2 separate regions of the Homo sapiens genome follow, and region 1 is linked to region 2. The links come from fine-mapping of genetic effects on gene expression. A gene starts in region 2. The other region holds a variant in brackets. All regions are shown on one strand. Distances are from middle to middle.

What was found. PIP is the estimated chance that this variant, and not a neighbour inherited with it, causes the effect. A credible set is the group of variants that fine-mapping cannot tell apart.
Region 1: its variant is the best candidate, but not a certain one, in a credible set for the expression of HAPLN1 in lung (GTEx, PIP 0.86).

The regions. Positions count from the first base shown.
Region 1 is chr5:83,689,354-83,697,706 of GRCh38, forward strand. All of the region lies in intron 1 of HAPLN1 (hyaluronan and proteoglycan link protein 1), which reads right to left. Among named protein-coding and RNA genes, the nearest start is that of HAPLN1, 27 kb to the right of the region's middle. The variant A/G (reference allele first, on the strand shown) is at 5,123.
Region 2 is chr5:83,717,037-83,725,389 of GRCh38, forward strand. HAPLN1 (hyaluronan and proteoglycan link protein 1) reads right to left here and starts at 3,819. Exons shown (of 5, transcript NM_001884.4): 1 at 3,753-3,819. RefSeq lists a silencer at 5,404-5,463.

The DNA of each region.
Region 1 (8,353 bases), 28 kb before region 2:
GCATAATGAAGATTACTAATATTACTGGCTTGTCCTATGTTTCCCTGGAAATATAGGCAGCTACATAAATGAACATTTTCATTAATAAAAGGCCTTATAACTGAACTACAACTTTTTTTTCACTCCCCAGACAAGAAGAATACAAGGGAAAAAGGAGTCTCTGGAAGGGAATTAGAGTGCCCACAAAACCAACTTCAATAACTTCACTATTTTGCCTGGGGCAGGCTGCAGTGGAATGATAATATCAAGGGCACATATGGGGTGATTTTAGACTTGACAGTGAAATCAAATGTGCAGAATAGGCTAAATAATGGCCAATTTTCTCAGAAAGGGAGAGATTTTTTTATTTACTACATACCCCCAGTTATTTAAAATTTATTATACAGTGATTTTACTATAGAAGTTTGTGTGTGTGTGCATGCACCTATAAAAGTAAACAAATCAGATAGTTTACACACACATGCCCCAAATTAATGGCTAATTCTAAACCCAAATATATAAACTTAAAATTTTTTCATTGGATTTATATAGAATTTTTCCTTCTGAAGGGTCAGAGATAGGAAATTTTATATGAACAAACAAAATATCTCATTGCTATTCATTCTTTCTTAGCTTCAAAGCTAAAGAGCTAATGTTATTTTACATTTACAGTATTATTAGTGCACTGCTTTCTTCAAAGAGCTATTTTCTGGAAGACCACCCAGAAGTTTCAACTAATTGAGGAGGCAATCTTCAGTTTACTTAAATAGGAAGGCTACGTGGGACACATTCCTGGCATCAGTACTCCTCTGTCATATCTGTTTGTGCTGGATATAATGCAAAGGACAATGTTAAATTCTGAAAATACCCTAGACTGTTTCCCCCCATCAAACAACCAAAGCAAAAAATAGTTAATTTCTGATACCTTTTTCAGAAAGATTGTTTTATAATCTGGGCTTTGAAAATTCCAGGAAAAATGAGCCACCCAAGGCGATCATAAAAGCCAAAGTTACAGATGTAGAAACAGGTTTTTTAGTAGTGTGATGTATTTCTGAGATTGTTGAAAGTGTAAGATGTTATTTGAAGTGGCACAGAATTAGCTGTTTGGTCACGGGAGAAACATCTGTAAATGGGAACTAAAAGGTTTTATGAACAATTCTTTGAGAAATATGTTGGAATCTAGAATAAGTAAGATTGGGGTAATTTATATGTGGAGATATGTTAATTCTATTTTCACAGATTTCATTGTAACATGCTATGGTTTATTAAATGGGTTTTATATATTTAAAGAGTCACATATTTTTCTTTTCAGATAAGGCCTTTCCATTTTTATCTGCTAATTTATGAATTTGCGCACCCCTGATTTTCTCTTCCTTAGGGAAAAAAATATCTGACATAATTTCAATATTGTTAAAGACATTGAAAACTATTTATATGGTGATTATATATTCAGGCATATTATTATGATCAATTACCAAATCTAGTCCTTTAATACTATCCTGAGTATTTTATTAAAATAAGTCGCATATTTTTATTAGTTTTATATGAATGCATGTGTTATTTTAGAGAAACTAGAAAAATGAAGAAAAGCAAAACTATGAAAATAAAACCACCTAGGACTTCTGTTTCTGATCAAGATGAAGTAAGATGAGCAGTATTTACTCTTCTGTCTCAAACAACTAAAAAGATAATGGACAAAATACAGAAAAAACCAGACACTCAAGATATTGGACATCAGGCAAAGAACAGTAACTTCTGATTATTAGAAAACAAATGAGGTGAGTCATATAATTTATTGCCGAAAGAAAGTTTTCATACAGTACAGGAAGAAGGAACCTACCTAGAGCCTGTTCAAAAACTTGAGCTGAGGCGTTGAGAGCCAAGAGTTCTGAAAATTGACGGTTCCTAGAGGTTGCAAGGCAGAATAATAGAAATGAGAGGAAAGGAGAGAGTGACACAGAGTTAACTTAGGATGTTTAGAGTTTTCTCCTAGAATATTCAGTTAAGGACTGACCAGTGCATATGTGTGAGAAATCTATCCAAGTCTAAGGAAAAAATGATCCTAAAGGATTAGTCTTCACCCAGCACTGGAATAGCACCTGTTTCCAACAGGCAGTCTAAAAAGCCTCATAATTCTTGGAGAAGGTTTAAAATCTTAAGATGAATCTTTACTCGCTAGTGGAGGGAAAAGTAATACTAAACTTAAGACAGCTCTAGGACCACCTAACAAAATTTAAAAGAGTGACCTGAAAGAATCAAACTGTTTCTAAGTACCTTAACCATATCTCTGAACAACGTATAGTAATATTTGTAGGAATAAGTAGTATCCAGCCTTAATTAAACAAGGTAAAATTTAAAACATACGGAATCCAACAGAAAGCTACTGGGCTTACAAAGAAGCAGGGCATACCAATAATAATAGTAATAATAATAATAAAGAGAAAACTTAGTCAATGGGCAGACCCAGAAATTATAAAAATGATAGTAGATACGGATGATAGAAACAGTAGATAAGAACATTAAAATGCTATTATATCTATATTTCAAATGTTCAAGAAGCTAGAAGAATTATTGAATATGTTACATATAGAGGCATGAAAAAGACATTTACAACCAGCCTATATAAAACATTTAGAGATGAAAATGACATTGTCTAAGATAAAAAAAAATTGAATGGGATTAATGGCAGGTTAAACAATTCAGGATAAAAGATGAGTGAAGTTGAAGATGTTGCAATAATCAAAACTGTCCAAAATGAAGCAGGGAGAAGAAAAATGACTGAAAACTAAAAAGGAAAAGAGCATCACTAAACTGTGGGACAACTTAAGTGGCCAAAACATACGTAATTGGAGTCTCCAAAAGAGAGAAGGGGCAGAAAAAAATTTGAAGAAGTAATGACTGAAAACTTTCAAATTTGATAAAAATTACAAACTTACAGACCCAAGAATTTCAGCAAATATTCTAGCACAAGAAACATGCAGAAAATTAAACCAAAACCCTCAATAATGAAACTGCTTAAAACCAGTGGTAAAGAGAAAATCTGAAAGAAAGGAAGAAAAAGACCCATTATTCACAGAGGAATAAAGGTAAAGATGAAGGCTGATTTCTTGTCTGAGACAAAGCAAGCAAGAAGACTGTGGAATGAGATCTTTAAAGTACTGAAAGAAAACTGTCCACCTAGAATTCTTTACTCTGCAAAAATATGTCTCATAGACAAAGGCAAATAAAGACTTTGTTAGACATACAAAGCTAAAATAATTCATCAATAGCCTACACAGAAATAAATATTTAAGAAACTTCTTCATGCAGAAGAAAAATGATAACAGTTGGTAAACTGGATTTATGCAAAGAATGAAGAGCACTGACTATACTAACTATAAGTAAGCACATTTTTCTCATTATGTAAATGTTTTTCAAAGATAATTGAAACCTTAAGGTAAAAATGATATGAATGTACGGTGGGGTTTTATATTTAGAAGCAAAATGCATGACAACTGCATAACAACATTTGTACAAAGACCATGTCTAAGGGTAATAGAAATATGTCATTGGAAGGTTCTTATATTAATACTTTACATGAAGTATAGTAGTCCCCCTTATCTTCAAGGGATACATTCTAAGACACCCAGTGGATGTTTGAAACTGTGGATAGTACCAAATCTTACATATGTTGTGTTTTTTCCTCTGCACACATACCTATGATAAAATTTAATTTATAAATTAGGCACAGTAAGAAATTAACAATAATAAAATGGAGCAATTATAACAATATACTGTCATAAAAGTTATATGAGTATGGCCTCTCTCTCTCAAAATATTTTGTTTTACTATACTCACCTCTTTTCTGACTGTCATTGACTGCTGGTAACTGAAGCCAAAGAAAATAAAATTGCAGATATGAGCAGGACTACTGTAGTAAAATATCACCTGAAAATAGACTGTGAAAAGTTAAGGTATATACTATAAAACCTAAAGCAGCCAGTAGAAATGTAAACAAAGACTCATAACTAATAAACCGACAAAGGAGACAGAATGGAATTTTTGGAAAATATTCAAATTATTTCAAAAGAAGATAGAAAAAGAAGAGGGAAGAGAATGAAGAACAGAAGAGGCAAATAGAAAAATTAGCAAGATAGTGGATTCAGAGCCAAGCATATCAATATTTTAATTAAGGGTAAATCATCTATAAACCTCCATTGAAAGGCAGAGATTGTCAGGTTGGATTTAAAAGAACCACTATATGTTTTTTAAGATAATCTAAATAAGAAAGACAAGAATATATGACAAGTAAAAGGATGGGAAAATACATAATATGCTAACACTAACCAAAAGGGAGATAGAGACACTATATTAAAATCAGACAAAATAGATTTCAGGATAAAAAATATCAGCAGGGGAAAAGAGAGCAATTTCATAATGATAAAGTGTCCAATTATCAGGAGAACATTACAACATTAAAAATGTATGCTTCTAATAACAGAGGTTCAAAAATACCTGAAGCAAAATGATATAGAATTGTAAAATATTAGAGCATCCCTTTATCAACAATTGATGGAACAAGTAAGCAGAAAAATCAGAAAATATATAGAAGACTTGAATACTGTAAACCAACCTCACCTAATTAATATTTATAAAATGTTCTACTCAACAAGAGCAAGTACACATTCTTTTCAAATGCATACCAACCACTTACCAAGATAAACTATATTCTGGGTCATAAGACAATTCTCAAGAAATGTAAAAGGATTTACGTGAGGCAAAATATATTCCCTAAGTATAGAATTAAGGTAGAAATCAAAAACAAAAAGATATGTGGAATACTTCTATCTATTTGGAAACTAAAGCACAAAATTTTAAATAACCCAAGGGTCAGTGAAAAAATCAAAAGGGCTATTAAAATTATTTTAAACTGAATAAAAATTAAAACATAGCATATCAAAATCTCTGGGATGCAGTGAAGCAATACTTAGTTTAGAAAGTATTCCCCTAAACACGTATTAGAGAAGAAAAGTTTCAAATCAATGACTTCAGATTCCACATTAAGAAACTAGAAAAAGAAGAGAATATGAAACCCAATGTAAGCAGAACAAAAAAATAATAATATCAGAGTAAAATAAGTAAAAACAAAAGATGGTTCTTTGAA[A/G]AGATCAATATAATTCATAAATCTCTATACAAGCTAATCTGATAAAATATAAAAGATATGAATTATCAATATAATGAATGAAGTAGATAATATCTATCAATTCTATAGAAATAAACAATAAGAAAATATTATGAAACTTTGTTTTAATAAATTCAGTGAGTTAAATGAAATGGTGAAATTCTTTGAAAGATAAAAATTGCCACCACTCACACAAGAAACAAATAGCCTGAATGCCCTATATCTATTTTTTAAAAATCAAATTTTTAGTTTAAAAATTCCCATGAATAACAACAAAAATGAACAAAAAAATAAACAAAACCAATTCCAGGCCTGGGTGACTTCACGGAATTTCACCAAACATTTAAAGAAGAAATAATATCAACTTTACACAAACTCTTAGATTAAATTGAAGAGGAGAGAATATTTCCCAATTTATTCTATGAGGCTAGCATTATTTCAATACCAAAATCAGACAAAAACATTTCAAGAAAAGTAGATTACAAATCAATTACCCTTCACAAACATAAACGTAAAAATTTTAACAAAATTTTAGCAAATCTAATCCAAAAAGATATAAAATGGATTAATACAAAATGGGGTTTATCCCAGAAATTTAAGGTTTTCTTTATATTAGAAAATCAATGTAATTCATTATACATATATTTTTGAAATGGAGTCTCACTCTTGTCACCCAGGCTGGGGTGCAGTGGCGCAATCTCGGCTCACTGCAACTTCTGCCTCCTGGGTTCAAACAATTCTCCTGCCTCAGCCTCCCGAGTAGCTGGGATTACAGGCACATGCCACCACGCCCAGCTAATTTTTGTATTTTTAGTAGAGATGGGGTTTCGCCATGTTGGCCAGGCTGGTCTCGAACTCCTGACCTCAGGAGATCTACCTGCCTCGGCCTCCCAAAGTGCTGGGATTACAGGTGTGAGCCACCACACCCAGCCATAATTCATTACATTAAGAGATAGAAAGACAGACACAACAATCAATCGATTGCTCAACAGATAAAACAGATAGATCACTAAATAGATTTATATATATATACATATTTAGTGTATCTATTTTCCTGTATCTATTGAGATGTTTATATAAATATATATAGAGATAAATATATATCTATATAGATATCTATAGATATATATCTATATAGATAAATATATTTATATATAGATAAATATATATCTATATGTATTTATATAAACATCTCAATAGATACAGGAAAAGTATTTCACATAATCCAACATCCACTCCAACTAAAAACTCTTAATAAAGGAATAAAAAGGAACTTCCTCAATCTGATAAAGGGCATCTATGTTCAACCCACAGCTAACATCATACTTAATGGTAAAAGACTAAATTATTTATTCCTAAAACCAGAAAAAAGGCAAGCATTTACGTTTTTACCATTTACTTTAAACATCCTAGTGGAGGTTCCCAGAGAGTGGAATTAAGGCAAGAAAAAGAAATAGAAGTCAAACAGATTGGAAAGGAAGAATTAAAACTTTTTATTTACAGATAACATGACAGTCTACACAGAAAAATCATAAAAAGTCTACAAAAAAGCTACTGTAACATATAAACTAAGTTTAAAAGTTGCTGGATATATGATCCATGTGCAAACATCATTATATTTTTATACACTGGCAATGAATAATCAAAAATTGAAATTTAAAGAATACCATATACCAAAGCATAAAAATATTTAGGGAAAAATAGCCAACAAATATGCAAATTGTACTCTGAAAGTTAAAAAACATGTTCAGATAAATTAAATGAGACATAAATAAATGGCAAGATATGGTATTTTCATAAAACAGGCTCAATATTATTAAGAGATTCAGTCTTCCCAAGCTGACCCATAAATTCAATGCATTCAAATCAAAATTTTAGCCCACATTTGGTAGAAAGGTACAAGGTAATTTTAACATTCATATGTAAATGTAAATTCCCTGGAATAGCCAAAATGTTTTAGAAAAGGAATTTACAAAAGAAAGAACAAAGTTGAAAGCACAAAGAGTTGTGCTACCTGACTTTAAGATTTATAATAAAGTTATAGTAATTAAGAGAGTATGGTATTTGCAATGTGGTATACAAAAAGATCAGATACAAAATTTTAAAAAGAATTTCATTCATATGGCCAAACTGCTCTTCAGAAAAGTTCTCAAGTTTTATTTCTACCAATAGATTGAATAAAGAAAATACTCTTGCCTGTGTATAATTTTAAATATATACATTTGATAGACAAAAATTTGGTAGGCTTATGTTTGTATTAATTTTCTTTGCTCTAATTACAAATGACATAAAAAAATTTTGTCCATGCTCATCAGTCACTTACATTTCTCCTTTTGTGAATTGCCATATTTTAACTGTTGCCTATTAGTTGTTACTGAGTTTTGAAACATTAAAAAACTAATGTAATTTGTATATCATAAAATGCACTCTTTAAGCATACAGTGCAGTGGTTTTTAGTACATTCCTCAAGTTGTGCAACCATTACCACTACCTGTTTCCAGAACATTTCCATCACCCGTAAAAGAAACTGTGTACCTATGAGCTGTTATTCCCTATTCCCTCCCCCACCAGGATTCCTGGCAAACACTAATCTACTTTCTGTCTCTATGGATGCCATTCTAAATGATTCTAAATGATTCAATGAATTCAATGACTTCAATGAATTTAATGATTCAATGAATATTCAATGAATATTCTAGATGATTCAATGAGTCTATTCTAGATGATTCAACAAATCATCTAGAATAGGCAAATTCATAGAGACAGATGTATTGACTGATGTAAATTGAATCATATAATTTGTGGTCCTTTTATGCCTGGCTTCTTTCACTTAGCGTAATGTTTTCAATGTTCATTCTGTAGCAAGTATCAGTACTTCATTCTTTTTATGTGTGAATACTATTCCATTCCACCTATATAGATACCACATTTTATTTATCTGTTCATCAGTTGATGGACAATTGAGTTATTTCCACTTTTGGGCTTTAATGAATAATGCTGCTATTAACACCCATGCACAAGTTTTTGTATGAACATATTTTTTGAATTCTGGGCCTTATCTACCAAGCGATGGAATATGGTAACTATATGTTGAGCTCTTTGAGAAACTGCCAAACTGTATTCCAAAGCACGGCACTGTTTTATGTTCATGCAACCATGCATGAGGGTTCCAATTTCTCCACTCTCCACATCCTCACTGACACTTATTATTGT
Region 2 (8,353 bases):
AAAAAAAACAAAAACTAGAAAAGTTATGATTAAACTTCTACTTTAAGGACCTCTGACTTTTAGGCAGTCTCTCACTAGCTCTCTCACTAGAATGAGTATGCAATTCATTCTAAATCACAAGGATGATCCAATGAAATTATTAACAGAATGTGTTTTTTTCCTGGTAGATAATGATCTACTGGAAATAAAGATTAAGATAATCTGCTTTATTTTATATAATTGATGATGCTAATTCCAAACAGTACCTCCAATCAGCACAGGTTATAATTTTGTGATATTAATGAAAAACAACTTAATGAGCGGGTCTCCTTCTTTCACTGTGTAGGTTTCCCTGCCATACAAAAACCAAACTCTTCCAAAGAGGAAACTTCCATTCCACAACAGCACGCCTAACTCTATTTTTGGATTACACCTACAAAGCTCCCCAAGTAACAAATTCATCATTTTTTTCTACTGAGGCATTTTACCTTCCTATATGAATTTCACAACTTGTATTGATTAATGCTGATTGTCCTGATCACTGTTGCAATTGTCACATAACTTGCAAAGAGCCAGTTGGAGTGATAATTCGTATATCTTTTAAAGAAAAGGTTTTTAAAGCTCTCAGTGCAATACTCAAATGGACTAATCTTCTATGGTATCTTAATGCTTCCTTCAAGTGGTGGTTTTCCATGTAATTGTTTTTGTCTAGAATTTTTTTTCTATTAGATCAACTTCATGGAAGCCAGGTTCCTGCTTCAAAACTCCAAGTGAACAACAAGTATAGATGAAGTTGTTTTACATGCTAATTATTAGTGTTTGAGAGCAATATTTTATAAAATAGACCTCATTACTCAAAAACAACTTGTACTACTATCCTTTCCAATTTAATAAAAAAATCAAAGAATATGAAACAAAATGTGCAGCTGTGTGGTAACCTTTTAAGCTAGTAGTTATTTTCCCAACTAAATTCAGTAACATTAAACCTTAGAGAAATTTATTTCTATTTCAGGAACAGTGATTTAAGATGGTCAAACTCTTTCCACCAGTCCTTGAACAATTCCATGACCTGTCTGTCTAAAACAAATCCTATATTAGAAGTGAGTTGCAGTTATTAAGCTATATCCTTGTGGAGGCGGAAAGTTAATGGTAAAGTATCCAACAAAGAGTAAAGTGATCTTAAATACAACCAGTAGGGATTTCATAAACTGTTTAGTTGTACCTTAATTTTTAACTTATATAAACATCACTTGCTTTAGTTTCTACCCTGAGCACCTATCCCAATGTCTGGCGTGTAGTTAATGTTCAACAAACGTCAACCGAGGGAGTCAGAGTATTTTAAGAAGCCGGTGAGAAAGCCTTCTTTGACTTATCCACTAGGTGGCACACAGGGACCATGCTTCACACAGTTAACCACCACAGACCCTCCCATTCAGTGTAAATAAAGAGATGCATTATTAATTTATACCACCTCGTCCTCTCTACTCCTAATAATTGTTTAACCAGCTGTTTCCTCTAATCCTCCTTAAACACTATTGATTAAAATCCTAAGTATATTCAGGTTTCCATCCTTTCCTACTTCTTCCAACAGCATTTTGCTACCTTTAAATGACAGGCTAAGTACACTTAAATGACATAGACTAAGTACTATGGTTACTACTCATGGCTGCAGGATGTCAGAAAATTAATTTGAAGCACTATCAAAATTATTTTCAAATTTGCCTGGTATTTCGTCAGAATTTTAACTGGTGAGAGATCATGATCTTAAAAATGCAATCTGAAAAATAAAATGTGCATGGGGCAAAAAGAAATGAAAAAGAAAACTAGTATTTTCTAAGGAAGGGAGTCATTTTCTGAATATAACTTTTGTTCATCTTTACAAAGATGAAGTGCATTGCTATCTTAAGATTCAAAGGACTTCTTCAACTGTTCAGAAAATACCAATATTCCACACCTAAGATGCTAAAAGGCAGGATTGTTTAGTAGACCGTTTACTCATAAAGTATCTTTCTGTGTACTCTGAATGTATTTATCCTGGATGTGTTACTTGCTCCCAAAGGAAGGAAAAGGAAGTGAAACCACTAGGGATATAATGAATTGATTCTTCTCTGTGAAAGTCTCTTCAGTACTTCTAAATTACAGTGTCAGTCATTCCTCTGAGAGACAGGGCCTTGCTGAAAATAAATGGCTCATTTTATAAATAAGTACATAATGTTTCCCCACCTTCTTGTTTCTCATAGAAAGCCCAGGCCCATAAGGCATTCCTGTCGAGAATACTGGCCTCTGGGTACATTCCTCCTGTAGAGCAGTGGTCTGTTGAGGTTGTTGGTTATCTCTTGTTCATTTAATTAGCCTTAAGTAAAATTACTTCTTATCTAGTTCTGTTTTTAAGCTGTTTCCAATTTAGTGGAAGAGGTCATCAACAAAAGTATAAATTCATTTCTTAGCTGAAACAATTAAATTTTTTAAAATGGGTGGTATAAAAGTGACTAAAGACTAAAGCTAATATCTGAAGAGTCCTTTGGTATACATTATATTTTACTGAATGGAAGAGAAACTTTCATTTTTGTAGGTAAATGGAATTTGTTAACTGATATAAGAATTATGAATCATATCACATTAAAAATTCTCCAAAGATAACTACTATGATATACTTTTGATAGAACAATATTCCCATTCCATTAAAATACTGAAATGACTGAAATGTGTATAAAATCTCTGCAAATTTAGTACACAGAAATAATCACATAGAAATAGTTACCAGAAACTACAATTGTAATGAATAAATATTACATTCATTTAGAAATCAATCCACAGCCTTAATTTCTTAAGAACTATTAGCTTCCAAGAAGCCAGCCAGTATGTTTGATTTTATGACATCACACTGGAACATGTACAGGAACACTTTCCACCCTAAAAATTCCCAAATGTACTGGCCACTGTGTGTATTTTTCCAGTGATAAATGAAAATAAAGCAACTTATTCTCAAATTAATAAGCCATCTTATTTTGAACACAACAGTCACATTCAATGGAAGAAAACTACTTAATCGAAGCCCAAACAAGTTTAGGTTTGTTTTTGGTGGGGAACAGTCTCAACATACAAATAATTTCTTTAAGCAACTTTTAACAGTAATCTTAACTATGACTATAAATTCTCTTCAGTGCATTCAAATTATCCATCAACATCATTGTATATATGAAATGCATCATCATTCTATGATCTTAAGTTCATAATTAGCTGGAGAAGGAAGCCTGGGCCAAAAATGGCAACATTTCTAAGATTATTAATCTAACAGGTATTACCTATGCCTAAAGTAACTTTCTTTTTCACATAACCCTATATATTCTCTGAAACAAAATTCATAAGCCTGGCTGGACATTCCCATTCCTCACCTTTCCCTTCAGCCTATACTATCCTTGTTTCATCTCAGGTGCTATAAAAATGGTTGTTGAGATACAGATAGAAAAGTCACCACTTGGAAACCATGACCCTACCAGATTTACAGGAGCACTAGCAGAAGCTAAGATACTAGAGTTAATTCTTTCTCCATTTTTAGACTGAGCCTGTTTATTGTAGTGAAATATTTTATCCGACAATATGAAACTTTTTTAAAAGTTGAGGTGTCATATTAAATTCAAATGAAAACTAAACTCAAAAGAAAAGAATAAAATTTGTTTAATGTATATATACATTGCATGTGTATTGCCCTCTGAAATCTTAAAGGCACAAAGGTATAACCAAAAGAGGGGGAAACAATTTGCAAGTTTTACCTTGTCCTGAAATCCAGGAGTTCGGATGCTCTCAAGTTCTGCTTAAGTTGGAAGCTGGAGATCAAGTGAAGCTAGCGCTCTTTCTCCTCACCTTAAGTTTGTCTCTGGGCGAGTGTGAGAGTGTGTGTGTGTGTGCGTGTGTGAGTGTGTGTGCAGAATGTCTCTTTGTGGCGCTGGATGGCAGAGGTCCTGATCCTGGGAAGAAGGAGGCACTTTCTCACCAAGAGCAGAAGAAAAGCAAAGCGTCACCAGGAAAGTTCTCCTCCCAAATCCCCTAATTACAGCCTAATGTGCACTTCATGCAAACTTCAGGGAGGAAGGGAGGGGCAGCTCTGTGCCCAGACCTTGTAAAGCAGCAGCCTCTTAGATGACTTTCCCCTCTGCTCAGATCCCGAGTATCCCGCTCTGGGGTTTAGGAAAGCCGGCCGCTACAGCCACACAAGCCCCCACCACACCACACCTCCCGAACCCGAACCCTCATCAGTCCTGGGTCTGTCCAGAAGGGATGGGACAAGGGGTCTGTGGAATGATCTGCGGGGCAGCGGTGTGAGCAGACTCCTCAGGACAGTCAGTTTGCGCTTTGTTTTATTAGCCTCTGCTTAAAAGAAAAATCCAAGGGTCGGAGAGGTCCTCTCTTTCCCGCCTTCCCCTCACCAAAGGAGATCAAGGATAACAGACAATGATGATAGTGGCACATAAAGCTTCTTAAACTGGAGATGGCCTTCCACCCAAATCACCAGAAGCATATTTTCTGGTTTACTGGACTCAGTATTGGTGTTGAGTTTAAATTTCTCTTAACAAACAACTGCTATTGTATCCTTGGATGACAGAGCTCAAAGAACCTGGATTTATTTATAGAACGAGGAATGCGAGGGGGAGACGGGATGGGTGGGGTTGGGTTGTGGATCCATAACCAGGATTAGAACCAGATGGGCACAGGGCGCGCGCGCGCACACACACACACACACACACACACACACACACACACAGACACACACACCCCTGAAATAACCAGTGGGGAAGATGCTGGGACACGCGGGAAAACGCCTCCTGAACAAATAGACGTTTATTTATAACTTCTGGGAGAGTATATAGGTCCATTGATTCCCGCCTTGAGTAACCAAGGGTTTTGGAGAGGAAATGGCTTCATATTTCAATAACAGAGCCACCTTTGATGGAGTCTAGGAAGGGGAAAAAAGAAACACACCGCAGGAAGCAAACGGCTGTTGGAGCAGCCGGGAGGAGGGAGCGGGGCTGGCCCTGGGACTGAGGACAAGCAAACAAGCTCGAGGGGCCCGCGGCCAGGGTGGAGGCGAGACGCAGGCCGTCCCCGAGTTGCAGCGAGCAGGGCCCGGTGTCGCGGAGCGCTGGGGACGTGCGGGGATTCGCGGCCGTGCTCCCGGCTCCAACCTCCGGCCCCGGCGGGGCGGCGCGGGCGGGACTGCGGGCTTCTTAAGGCCGCCGCCGCCGCTCGGGCTGTGGCGCGGGTTGGGGAGAGGGTTCCGTGGGCCGTAGGGACTGAGGGAGTCGTAAGTCGATGAGCTAGTGGGGCAGGAGGATGGGCGGGTCCAGGGCGTCCTGGAGGTGCAAGGTGGGATGGGAGGACCTGAGGGGCAGCCAAGCTGCTGGGGAAGCCGCCGGGACGGGGGCTCTGGCCGACAATGCAGGTGGCCGGTGTGCAGATGAGCCAGCGCGCGGGGTGCGGCCGCCGGGATGCCCGATCCGAGTCGCGCGGGTGGCGGCGAGCGGCGCTATTGTCTTAAAGATAAAGCCTAAGCCACGGGGACTGCCTCCTCCTGGACTCTGGAGAGAGGCGGGAGAGATTGCAGGGGAAAAAAGGCTTCTTCCCGCGTCTTCTGAGAGATTTCACCAGTTCTTGCCTCTGGGCTCCCCCTTGCCATTCTGTCTTTGGTAAATCAACACGTGCCTCTTGGAAAGGTTTCATTTCAAAGACAAACGGAACACTCACACACCCTCCCTAAATGAAGACAGTTATATTCAAAATGAATTCTTCATCAGGCGTTCAACACCTTTCTTGGAATTCCAAAACCTGGGTGAGGGCGCTTCTCTTATTTTTCTGTTTCCCCTCCCGCACAGGGAACAGGTTTTGCAGTTTTATGTCCCTAATCTAGTGGCTATTGAGGCAGCTGTTATATAGGCCTCTACATTAACTGCCAATAAAAATAAGATACATCTCGGCTTTTCAACTATGCAAAGGGTTTTTATGCTATTCATATTTCTTGTAAACGTTCAGGGTGGTGTGTATTTTAAAGAACATAAACGAATTAGACTTATAAACAAATATCCAATTTTTATATTAAAGCACCATAAAGGTGGTAAGGCTGGTGGTGTGTGGCTATGATATCATATAAAGACAGTTTAAATACCGATCTTGTTCCCTCAGCTTAACAACCTAATTTCTGGCGATTGCCTGGAGCGTAAATCAAATCAGCTGGCTCATGGCTGGCACTTGTTCCCCTATTTTGTGGTCTGCTCTATACACTTATTCCGGCACAACATTAAGATAATTTAATGTATTCTCTTCTGAAATTGTTTAATAACCACCCAAGACAATCTATTTTGCAACTTAGTCACACCATGGTGAGCTACACTAGATTTTTTTTCAATCTCAGGTATAGCCGCAACTATTGAGATAGACTTCCAGAAATAATGACAGGTACTTACCTCTGAGTCATCCTGTCCCTCCTGATCCTCCCCTATTTCCAGCCTTCCCTTCCCCATTGCCTCCTTACTAGTCTTTGTTAAAGATCCCCAGTCTTTTTAATCACAAATATTTAACCTATCAATAGTGTGTATTTGAAGTGTTATTCAGGCTTAATTTAATTGACGTTATATACATTTTTCCATTCGTTTTGGGGTTCACATGGTTTTCTAGTTATTTAAATTTACATTGGAATTAGCTTTAAGAGTCTTTTAAAAAGATTTTTATGTTCAGTTAATTAATGTTCAGCCAAATTGTGCTTTATGGAGGCATACATTACTTTGATTAGCCCTTATAGTTTTTCATCAGGGCACAGGCATTATAATAAGCCATGGTAAAAAATCAAATCAAGTAAATGCAGGAATAAATACAACTCTATTTTCATGACTAAATATTTTACAAAGATATAAATTGTAAAAATAATTTTTGAAGACCAAAATATCTTCTTAAAGAAAACCATATCAAAAAAGTATTCTGTATTTGAAGATTTCCTGTATTTATTAACATTAGTAAGTCATGTGGAAATTCAAATCTTTCCTTTGTTAAATCAAGGTTAGCCTAAAGCTGTCTTCTTACATATTTTAAGTTTGGCCTAAAGGTTTCTCTGTACATTGTGAACTATAACCTGAATGGAATTGTAAACAGACTGTAGCCTGCTCTTGTGGCAACACTGAGCTTTGGCCAATCACATGTGGCCAACTGTTCAAACCCTGTTCAAATAAGGCAAAGGTGGAGCTATAACCAGTCCGGGGGTTTCTGTACCTCACTTTCCTTTTTCTGCCCATAAACCTTCTACCACGTGGCTGTGTTGGAGTTTCTGAGCCTGCTCTGCCTCTGGAGACTGTTGGAATTGTTCTTTGCTTAATCAAACTCTTTTAAATTTAGTTTTGCTAAAGTTTTTTTTTTCCCTAACACATAGCATATTGAGGTTTGTTTTATTTGCTTTTTTAATTTAGAGAAGGCAAATAAGCCATTTTTTTAAGTTTCAAGAAAAACCAAACTTTTTTTTATTTTTCAATAATATATTTTGAACTATTTCTCATTCTTATTAAATAATCTGATGTTAAACAATATTATTTCAAAATATGCTGATGTATTTATATTATATAAAATTATATATCAAAATATTCTATATATAATATATACAGCATATTTTGAAATGATGTTTAATGTAATACAACAGTATTTTATAAGAATGAAAAACAGGTTAAAAAATGGTGTTATAAAATGTAACTTTGCATTCTTTTGCTAATTGTAACACAATTTGAGTAATTAGGTTGAACCAGATAAAATGGAATATTCAACCTTTTTTGACCTACCAAAAAGCAATTTCAGCTGGTTTCACCTTATACAAATTTGAATATGTGTGTAGCATAAGTGTAGCAGGAACATTTTCAACTTTTAAAAAAATATTGATCTGCAATATCATGAATATTTAATATGTAATAAATTCCCAAGCAGAATAGTATGCCTGCTGGCATATTACACTCGTAACAAAATATACATTTATATTCAAAAGGGGATTATCTAAATTCATCTCCTCTTCAAACTCCAAAAGAGGCTGCTGTTATCCACTAAATTCCAGAGAATTGCTTCCCTCTGAGCACTTGTTTCCTGGAATTTTTGCCTCAGGCTGACATTATATCTGATTGAACATCTGCTAGGATAAAGGTTCAGCTTCGTGCACTTTGGAGGTACTGGGGGGAGGAAAGCCATTTGACCTTTCCTGTCTGAGGGCTCAGAACTTCATTAAAGCACCTCCTGGGATTGTGGGCATAGCCATGAGAAAGACACCATTTGTAATTAAGTCCTTCCCACTGGCTATATTCCTGTTGAACTCGATGATTAAAATACAAATTCAATATTCTAAATGGTCACA